Regions from separate parts of the Homo sapiens genome. Here region 2 is linked to region 1. The links come from fine-mapping of genetic effects on gene expression. Tissue or cell type: hypothalamus. Region 1 holds a variant in brackets; the other region holds the start of a gene. All regions are shown on one strand. Distances are between the middles of the regions.

Region 1 (5,144 bases):
GTCCCATAAAAGGTCTCCTGTGCCCGTATGGCCACTGTGGGGGGGGGGGGGGCGGGCAGCAGGCCACAGGGTCGGCATTTGCAAAATAGTGAGGCACTCCCTGGCCTCTGCCCACTGGGCCACTGAGGCAGGGCTGTGGACGGCTTCTGCGGGCTCCAGCTCTTCCTCGTCCCTCAGCTCAGCGCTTTCATGTCTTCCCCAAAATAGAAGATCTGCAGATTTAAGCATGTCGGGAGCGGTGAGAGCCTGGAGCTCCCCACCCCAGTTAGACTGCTCTCCAGCACAGCCACTTTCTCAGTGCGCTGAGGAGAGCCAGCCTCCTGCCCCAGAGGGGTGTTCTGCAAATCCCTGGGGCTCAGCCCTCGAAGTCCATTGCTATGGATCATTTCCGACCGCCACTTGGACGTGTTAACACGCCGAGCAAGAAGGAGGTGGGGTGTGTGTCCCACTGTCTGGCATACAAATATAGACTGGGAGTCCCTGTCCCTGGGACATGCATCTTGACTGCACACAGAGGCAGCCACCAGCCGTGGGGGAGTCACAGGCTCAGCCTCCTCTCCTCACCCCTATGACTGTGGCTTGATCCCCACTGTGGGCTGCTGAGGCTCCCAGGAGGCTGGTGAGCCGGGTATCTCTGAAGCCCCTCGGCCCTGTCCTGGTCCCAAGCAGTCCCCGGGTCCCACCTCGGCGCGAAGACTCACCTTAGAGCTTTCCATCCCAAGCAGCCCCCAGGCCCCACCTTGGCAGGAAGACTCACCTTAGAGCTTTCCATCTTTCTTTTTCTGTTTGGTTCTCTGGGCTCTCACTTTCGTAAGAAGCCAAATAAAGACCTAGACAGAAAATGAAGTGAAATTTCACAATTATGGTTGATGATAATAACCTGTTCTACACCTGCTATATCTGCGTGGGTCTCTTTCTGGGTTCTCTATTCTGTCCCATTGATCCATGTGTCCATCCCTCCCCTAATACTGTGCTGTCTTAACGACAGTAGTTCTATAACATTTGCGTGAGGGCTTTTGCTTTTGTGTGAAACTCACTTCAAATGATGTATAAATACATGAGTCTTTATTTCTCTGGAATAACTAACTGCCCAAGAATGCAATGGCTGGGCCATATCATAGTGGCATATTTGGAATAAGAAACTCTTTATCTAGCCCTATATTCTGAGGGTTATCTCTTGCTTTTCCCTGCTAAAAGCTGTATAGGTTTACATTTTACATTTTAGTCTGTGATCCATGCTGAGCTAATTATTTGTATAAGGTGTGAGGCTTGGGCTGGGGTTCATGTTTTGGTCTGTGGATGTCCGGATGCTCCGGCACTGTTTGTTGGAGGGCTAGCTTTCCTCCATTGGGTTTTGTTTTGTTTTGTTTTGTTTTTGTCAAAAATCACCTGGTATATTTGCGTGGGTCTCTTTCTGGGTTCTCTATTCTGTCCCATTGATTCATGCGTCCATCCCTCCCCTAATACTGTGCTGTCTTAACGACCATAGCGCTATCATATCAGCCTTAACATCAAGCAGACTCATTCCTCCCACGAATCCTTTTCAAGATTGTTTTAGCAATTCTAGTTCCTTTGACTTCCGATACAAATTTTAGGAGAATCTCGTCTCTATCTTACAAAGAGTCTTGCTGGGATTTGGGTAGGAATTGCATTAAACCTGTACTTAAATTCTGGGAGGAGAATTAATACCTTTGCTATGCAGTCTTTGCGTTCGAGAACATCCTATGTCTCCATTTATCTACATCTTTCTTGATTTCTTTCATCAGCATTAACTTTTTTTTGAGACAGAAGTCTCGCTCTGTCGCCCAGGCTGGAGTGCAGTGGCGCGATCTCGGCTCACTGCAAGCTCTGCCTCCCGGGTTCACACCATTCTCCTGCCTCACCCTCCCGAGTGGCTGGGACTACAGGTACCCACCACCACGCCCGGCTAATGTTTTGTATTTTTAGTAGAGATGGGGTTTCAC[C/T]GTGTTAGCCAGGATGGTCTCGATCTCCTGACCTTGTGATCCGCCCGCCTCGGCCTCCCAGAGTGCTGAGATTACAGGCGTGAGCCACCGCACCCGGCACATCAGCATTAACTTTTAGCGTACACGTCCTGTGCGTGTTCTGTTCCATTTCCACCTACATATTTCATGTGAGTGACTGTAAATGGTATTATCATTTTAGTTTCAGCGTGCACATGTTTATTGCTCATACGTAGAAACATGGTTGATTTTTGCATGTGTGTCTTGTATCCTGCAACCTTGCTGAACTCCCTTATTAGTTCTAGGGGTTTTTGTAGATTCTTTGGGATTTTTTTTCCTCATCATCTGCAAATAGGGACAGTGTTAATTTTTCTTTCTGATTTGTGTGTTACTTCCTGTTCTTGCCTTATCGCACTAACTAGTTCTTCCATTACTATGATGACTAAGAGTGGGGAAGAGTGAACATCCTTTCATTGTTATTGGTCTTACGAGGAAAGCATTAAATCTTCTGCTGTTAAATATAATGTTTGCAGAAGCGTTTCTGTGGATGCAACTTGTCATGCTGATAAATTCCCTTCTATTACTAGTTTCTGAGAGTTTTTACCATAAATGCGTGTAGAAATTTGTCAAATGCCTTTTCTGCATTGATTAATATAATCATGTGTCTTTTCTTCTTTAGCTGTTTAGTATAGTGAATCACACTGATTGAATTTCAAATATTGAACAGCTTTGCATCCTTGGAATGAACCCACTTAGTCATGACGTATAATTATTTTTACATATTGCTGAACTCTATTTGCTTATTTTGTTAAGGATTCTTGTGTCTATATTCATGAGGGATATTGGCCTGTATTTTCTTTTTTTGGTACTGTCTTTGGTTTTAGTATCAGGGTAATACTGGTGCCAGGGTTTGAATGTTTGTGCCCTGAAAAATTCATGTTGAAACATAATCCCGAATGCAACAGTGTTAACTAACAGGTGGGGTCTGGAGGAGGCGATTAGGCCATGAGGTTCCACCCTCATGGATGGGATTAGTGCCCTTATGAAAGGGCTGGAGGGAGCCAGTCTGGCCCCTTTTTGCCCATCTGCCAAATGAGGACACAGCATTTGCCCCTTCTGCCATGCGAGGACACAGCAAGAAGGCTCCACCTTAGAAGCAGAGAGCAGCCCTCACCAGACACAGAATCTGCCTTGATCTTGGATTTCTGGCCTCTGAAACTGTAGATATATATATATAAACTCAGTGGTAAGAAAATGTCTGTTGTTTATGAATTACCCAGTCTAAGGTATTTTGTTACGGCAGCTCAAACTGACTAAGACAACTGGCTTCATCAGGAGGCTCCCTCCTCTGCCACTTTCTGGAAGAGATTGTGGAGAATTGGTGTTAATTCTTTAAGCATTTGGTAGAAGTCTCCAGTGTAACCATTTGAGCCTGTAGACTTCATTTTTGGGAGTTTTAAAATTATAAATTCAATTTATTTAATAGTCACAGGGCTATTCAAATTATCTATTTTATGTCAAGTTGTGGTAATTTGTGCTTTTTAAGGAATTAGTTCATTTCATTTAAATTGTTAAATTCGTGTGTGTGGAGTTGTTTGTCGTATTCCCTTATTATCTTTTCAATGTCTGTAGTCGTTAGTGATATCCTGTTTTACTCCTGGTACAGTAGTCCCCTATTATCTGTGGGGGATACATTCTAAGTCCCCTGGTGGCTGCCTGAAACTGCAGATAGTACGGAATCCTGTATATACTTGTCTTGGATCCCTTTTCCATCTTAACTAAGCACTCATCAGGCACTTCTGCAGTTTGAGATGCAACAGCAAAACTAGCAAGAATTTATTTTTCTTTCTTCAGAATTTCATGGATAAGTTTGTTCTTACTGTAGATCTTAGTAATCTCAGCATACAATTTTTTCCCTTGAGAACTTTCACCTCATCATTTAACGGAAGCACTTTACAGCTTCCCTTTGCCATATCTGAACTGCCTGCATCACTGCTCAGGTACTTTGCCAGGCGCGGTGGCTCACGCCTGTCATCCCAGCACTTTGGGAGGCGGAGGTGGGCAGATCACGAGGTCAGGAGATGGAGACCATCCTGGCTAACACGGTGAAACCCCGTCTCTACTAAAAATACAAAAAATTAGCCAAGTGTGGTGGCGGGCGCCTGTAGTCCCAGCTACTCGGGAGGCTGAGGCAGGAGAATGGTGTGAACCCGGGAGGCGGAGGTTGCAGTGAGCCGCGACTGCGCCACTGCACTCCATCCTGGGTGACAGAGCAAGACTCTGTCTCAAAAAAAAAAAAAGAAGTAAAATAGGCTGGGCGCGGTGGCTCACACCTGTAATCCTAGCACTTTGGGAGGCTGAGGCTGGTGGATCACTTGAGGTCAGGAGTTCGAGACCAGCCTGACCAACATGGTGAAACCCCGTCTCTACTAAAAATACAAAAATTAGCTGGGCGTGGTGGCTCACGCCTGTAATCCCAGTGACTTGGGTGGCTGAGGGAGGAGAATCGCTTGAACCTGGGAGGCAGAGGCTGCAGTGAGCCGAGATCGTGCCACTGCACTCCAGCCTGGGTGACAGAGCGAGACTCTGTCTCAAAAAAAAAAAGAAGTAAAATGAGGGTTACCTGGACACAAGCACAGTGACACTGACAGTTGATCTGATAGCTGAGGTGGCCACTAAGTGACTGATAGGCAGCATAAACACAGCACAAATGCCGGGCAAAGGGATGAATCATGTCCCAGGAGGAACCCAGTGGGATGACGTGTGATTTCATCACACTACTCAGAATGGTGCACAATTCAAAACTTATGAATTATTTCTGGAATTTTCCATTTAGTATGTTCAGACCACGGTTGACTGAGGGTAACTACAGATAAGGGGGGACTACTGTATCAGTAATTTGTGTCTTTTCCTTTTCTTTGTCAAGAGGTTCTTTGCTAGATGGCAGCAATTTTATTGTTCTTTTCAAAGAACCAGCCCTTTGATTAACTTTATTGTTTTTCTGCTTACGGGTTCATTGATTTCTGCTCTTATTTCCATCCTGCTGCTGGCTTTGAGTTTATTTTGCTCCTCTTTTTCTAGATTCTTGATGTAGGAACTTAGATTATTGATTTGACACTTCCCCTTTTTTCTAATGTATGCATTTGGTGCTATAAGATTTCCTCTGAGTCCTGCTTTAGCTGT
Region 2 (5,144 bases), 310 kb before region 1:
TGAGACCAGCCTGCAACATAGCAAGACTCCATCTCTGGAAAAAAAAAAAAAAAATTAGAGCCTGTGGTCCCAGCTACTTGAGAGGCTTGAGGTGGGAGGATTGCTTGAGCCCGGGAGTTTGAGGATGCAGTGAGGCATGTTGAGCCACTGCACTCCAGCCTGGGCAACAGAGCACGATCCTGTCTCAAATATAAAATAATTTCTAAATAAACTTTCTTGTTCAAGCTCAGGGTCTGAGTTGTGCACTGCCTATGATCCACTCCACAGAAGTTCTGATTTCTTCTCTGTGCAATGGTTCTGCCGGCCTTTCTGCCGCCCAGAGGTCCTGGTGAGTGGGCATCAGAGACTCCTTAGGGCTCTGTGGAGGCTCAGGGAGGAGCTTTCGCTTCCCTCCTGATGCTGGTGCCTCCAGAGCTAGACAGGAAGATGGAAGCTGGGTGGCCCGAGCAGGGGTGGGGGCTTGGCTGGCCCTCCTGTCAGCTTGAGCTGGCTTGAGCCCAGGCAGGGCCCTGACAGCCTGGGCAGGCTCAGAGGGAGGGAGGTGGGAACCAAGAGACCCGGGGAGGGCTCCCGGGGCCAAGACCCAGGTCCCTGCCCTGCACATCTGCCAAGGGACTTCCTCAGAAGCTGCTGATGTTAGGCTTTGGCTTCCTGCTGTGGACTGAGGGGATGAACTCCGACGGGAGGACATTCAGGCCTTGGAGGAAATGAGAGCTTGGCTGACAGGAGGGCCTGGACTCACGAAGACACTTGGACACCCACAAGCACAGAGACATGGGTGTGTGACAACTGACCAAGGGGCATGCAGGTATGTATGCGTGGTGCACACAGACACCCTGGGCACAGCCCACTGGCACCAGCGTCAACCCCTGCGTGGTGGGCTGCATCCCACCCTTCAGGCAGGCCCTGTGGGGCAGGTTTCAGGGAGGAAGGAGGCTGAGTGGGCAGAGTCTGAGGACGCGGCCACCATCGCTCCCTGGCACTACATCTGTGTCCGGGATCTAGGAGGCAGTCCTCCATCACTGAGCCCCAAGATGACTGTCACAGCTTGGTCTAAAGCAGGGGCCGGGCCTGAGCCCTGGCCCCTGCCCTGGAGGAGCTCACAGAGCCCCCAGCTGGGGCATATCTGGTTTCCGGGGGCAGGGGCGATACCCAGAGGAGGAAGAAGGGATTCTGAGAGAGCCCAACAGGCTCCGAGCCTCAGGCTGGAGCTGAGCTTGGGGCAGCAAGGAAGGACCAGGTGCGAGGGCAGAACCATGCGGCCCGACCCCTGCAGCACGGCCTGTGGCCTCCCCCAGCTCCTGCCCGTGCTTCTGGGTCAGTCTGGACTTTGCCACTTCTGACCAAAAGCCACCGCAAACCCACTCAAGCCAAAAGAGGAAGTGACCGTTAGGCCCAACTGGGAAGGCTGGCGGCCAGGGGCACTCCAGGCAGGGCGAGGGGGGCGGCCGGGGGCGCTCCAGGCGGGGCGAGGGAGACACCCAGAACTCCAGGCAGGAGTCCTCGGGTGCCACCTTTCCTCTCCACCTGGCCCTGCGTGGGCTCTGTCCTCAGGGTGGCCCGCCGTAGTCCCCCTCCCCACTCTGAGTTTCCTGTCCCAAAGTCCTAAGGAAGTTTCCAGAACTACATCTCACCATCTTGAGTCAGCCTTGGCTCAGTGTCCATCTCACAGGCCTGGAAGGGGCAGGAGTCAGCACTGTCCAGACCACAGGGCCTGAGTGTGGGGAGGGCAGCCGTCTAGGAAGGTGGTGGAGGGTTGTTACCTTGAGGCAAGAGGGCTGCGGGGCAGAAAGACACAGCAGGTGACTGTTGTGGGAGGCCCAAGAGAGGCCTGGGAGAGGGATGGCCCACAAGGGCTGACCCTCCCGCCACCCAGGGGGCCTTGGACAGGTTTCCTCCTGGCAGGGTGGCCCTTGTGCATGGAACCCCTACAACGACTAAGGCTGGCAGGCATGAGGTTTCCTGAAGGAGAAAGAGCTTGTGGGGCCCAGTGTGGCTGGGGGGGCGCTGGGACTCCATTCTGAAGCCAAAGGCACTGGGAAGGGCTTCCGCAGAGGAGGGTTTGGCAGGGGTTGCCAGGAACAGCCTGGATGGGGACAGGGAACAGATAAGGTGGGTGGAGGAGTTAGCCGGGAGCCTGGGGCTGGCTCCAGCATGATGTGGGGGTCTGCAAGGCCCTGGAGAAAGTGGGGTGGTGCAGCAGGGGGCACACCCACAGCTGGAGCTGACCCAGATGGACAGCTTGGGCTCTGCCACGCGGGACTAGGCAAGGAAGGGGCACGAACAAGCAGGAAGTGGTGAGGCGGTCTCCAGCTAGCTGCTCTCCCCTGCCCAGACTTTGGTTTCCTCCCTGCTGGCTTGGCCTGGCTCCCTGGCTCTGTGTGGTATGGTCACACCCCCGTGCACCCCCTCCACTGAGATGGGGCGGGGAGAGCACCGAGGCTGCTCTTCCTCTCCTGGGCCGTCCTCTGAGCAGCAGACGGGGCTAAGCGTTCCCCAGCTCGCCTTCACACACAGCCCGTGCCACCACACCGACGGTACCATGAAGGACGAGGTAGCTCTACTGGCTGCTGTCACCCTCCTGGGAGTCCTGCTGCAAGGTGGGCTGGTTCCTATCTAGGAAGAGGGTGGGCCTTAGATCCCTACAGCTTGCCCTCTGCCCCCTAGGCCCAGGTGGAGGGCAGAGGTGGGGACTCCAGCCCAGGCCCAAGCTGGAAGAGGGTGGGGACTTTCAGGGAACTGGGGGGCACCTGGCTGTGAGAGCTGTAGGACTTGGGGGTGGCAAGGGTGCCAGGACAAATGGTAGGATAGCCATGGGCTTGGGGAAGCTGATCTCTGCTCTTTCCAGCTGTCCCCTCTCTGGGCGTCCCAGCAAGCGGCCCCCATTCCCTGGCTCTGCTTCAAAGGCACCTCCATACTGGGACCACGTGGAGCAGGGTAGAGGTGGGACTCCTTCCTCCAGCCCCCTAAAAAGAGCCTGCTTAATGCCTTTCTCAGACTGGCCCTAAAGGACACATTCCTTGGCCAGATATCCTTGCCACCTAAGAGACACCACTACTCCACAGTGTGTGGGCTAGGATAAGGCACAGCCTGGGGAGGGGGCTCTGAAGGGGCTGAACAGACAGGCCAGCCTGACCTCCAGCTGCTCCTGCACTGAGCTGGATGGCCACCCTGTGACACCCATCTGCAGAGGGCCCAGAACCAAAGGTGCCAGGGCTGCAGGACTCAGGGGGAGATGGTCCGACGGGAGGTCTGGGGAGGGAGCGCACAGCCAGCACTGGTCTGTGTGTGGTCTGGCCTGGCCTCACCTGACCAAGAGAAGGGCTCCTGCCCACAGAGAAACTTTAGGGCCAGCCCACCCTCTGCAACTACCCCAGCCCTGGGGTCCTGGGGTTAGGCTAGGAGAGTCCCAGCTGCAACCTCCTGGGAGCAGGAGAGAAGGTGTCTGTCAGATTTAGGCCTGGGACCGGAATGCAGGAACAGAGAAACTGAGGTTTGGAGGCACAGGGACGCAGGCTTTAGTGATCCCGGCCTGAGGCAGGGTCAGAGGGCCCTGCTGGTGGGCGCTGGTAGGTGGGTGACCAGGGACTGTTAGCTACAGGGAGTGTGCTTCCTTGCACCTGGGAGGATGCAGCCAGCTCTGCCCTCAGACTCCCGAGGCACTTCCTGGCCAGGGACCTGAAAGCTGCATTTGCCTGTGTTTTGAGAGTGAAATGATTCAGAAACAAGGACTCAAGTGGTCTCTCTCGCGGAGCAGGTGTCCCTGTGCCTGAATCACTCACCCTCCCCCATACACTCACAGGTTGGGACAGGGCCTCTCTGCGCCCCAGGCTTCAGCCCTGCCCTCCTCGCTGAATGTCAGGGACACAGGGCAGGCCAGGGATGGGTGAGACGAGAGGTCTCCTCGGGCGGGGAGGGGGCGGGGTTCCGCCTTAGGGAGGAGAGGACACGGCCAAGTGAAGGGCCAGATTGCAGGATCCCTCCCACTCCCATCTCTGGGGCTTCGGGTGTCCAGACCTGACTCCCGCTCCCCCTCCTCCCCCAGCCTACTTCTCCCTGCAGGTGATCTCGGCGCGCAGGGCCTTCCGCGTGTCGCCGCCGCTCACCACCGGCCCACCCGAGTTCGAGCGCGTCTACCGAGCCCAGTGAGGCGCGGCGGGAGGGCGCGGGGCGGGGAGCGAGCCCCAGGCGGGTCCGGGTCGCAGGACCATCCCGGCCGGCGCGCTCATCCCACCCGCCCACCGCAGGGTGAACTGCAGCGAGTACTTCCCGCTGTTCCTCGCCACGCTCTGGGTCGCCGGCATCTTCTTTCATGAAGGTCGGGGTGTGGGGCAGGGGCGCACGCGCTGGACCCCCGGGACCCGCGCAGGGCGCTCACCAGGCCCGTGCGTACCTCTCGCAGGGGCGGCGGCCCTGTGCGGCCTGGTCTACCTGTTCGCGCGCCTCCGCTACTTCCAGGGCTACGCGCGCTCCGCGCAGCTCAGGTGAGGGCCGGGCGGGGAGCGGGGCGGGGCCGGGGAAAGATCGCGGGCGGGCGGGGCTCCTGGGGAGCGGGACCGAAGCTGGGGGCGGGCGACGGGCCGGAGCCCAGCGCCTTTGGGGATTCGGTGGGCGAGCCCTGGCGGCGGCCAGAGGAAGTCCCCGTGGGGCCAGGGTTGCGGCGGGGAAGAAGCGGGCCTCCTCGCGCCACCTCCCCGCTGACCGCCGCCCGCAGGCTGGCACCGCTGTACGCGAGCGCGCGCGCCCTCTGGCTGCTGGTGGCGCTGGCTGCGCTCGGCCTGCTCGCCCACTTCCTCCCGGCCGCGCTGCGCGCCGCGCTCCTCGGACGGCTCCGGACGCTGCTGCCGTGGGCCTGAGACCAAGGCCCCCGGGCCGACGGAGCCGGGAAAGAAGAGCCGGAGCCTCCAGCTGCCCCGGGGAGGGGCGCTCGCTTCCGCATCCTAGTCTCTATCATTAAAGTTCTAGTGACCGAGACCCGGGCTGCGTTCTCTGGGTCCGCGGGGGTGGCGCACCGCGGGCTACGGAGCCTGGAGGGGCCCAGCCCGAGTCCGGGCAGCCCGGGGCGGGCTTCCTAGTGGCGGCGTGAGAGTGGCTGCGAAGGAACGAGCCCTCCCCCTGGGGCGGGACTGGATCCGGTCTTCACC

Evidence for each region. PIP is the estimated chance that this variant, and not a neighbour inherited with it, causes the effect.
Region 2: it holds the start of LTC4S, and the variant in region 1 is fine-mapped to the expression of LTC4S in hypothalamus (GTEx, PIP 0.96).

The regions. Positions count from the first base shown.
Region 1 is chr5:180,101,314-180,106,457 of GRCh38, forward strand. It overlaps RASGEF1C (RasGEF domain family member 1C), which reads right to left. Exons shown (of 14, transcript NM_175062.4): 13 at 758-830; 14 at 1-212. The coding sequence ends at 188. Among named protein-coding and RNA genes, the nearest start is that of RNF130, 32 kb to the left of the region's middle. The variant C/T (reference allele first, on the strand shown) is at 1,965.
Region 2 is chr5:179,791,539-179,796,682 of GRCh38, forward strand. LTC4S (leukotriene C4 synthase) reads left to right here and starts at 2,448. Exons shown (of 5, transcript NM_145867.2): 1 at 2,448-2,600; 2 at 4,046-4,145; 3 at 4,248-4,318; 4 at 4,403-4,484; 5 at 4,715-5,109. The coding sequence starts at 2,543. The coding sequence ends at 4,856. RefSeq lists enhancers at 1,636-2,263, 1,838-1,917, 1,938-2,087, 3,571-4,243 and silencers at 2,438-2,507, 4,053-4,762, 4,803-4,852, 4,873-5,032, 4,877-5,088.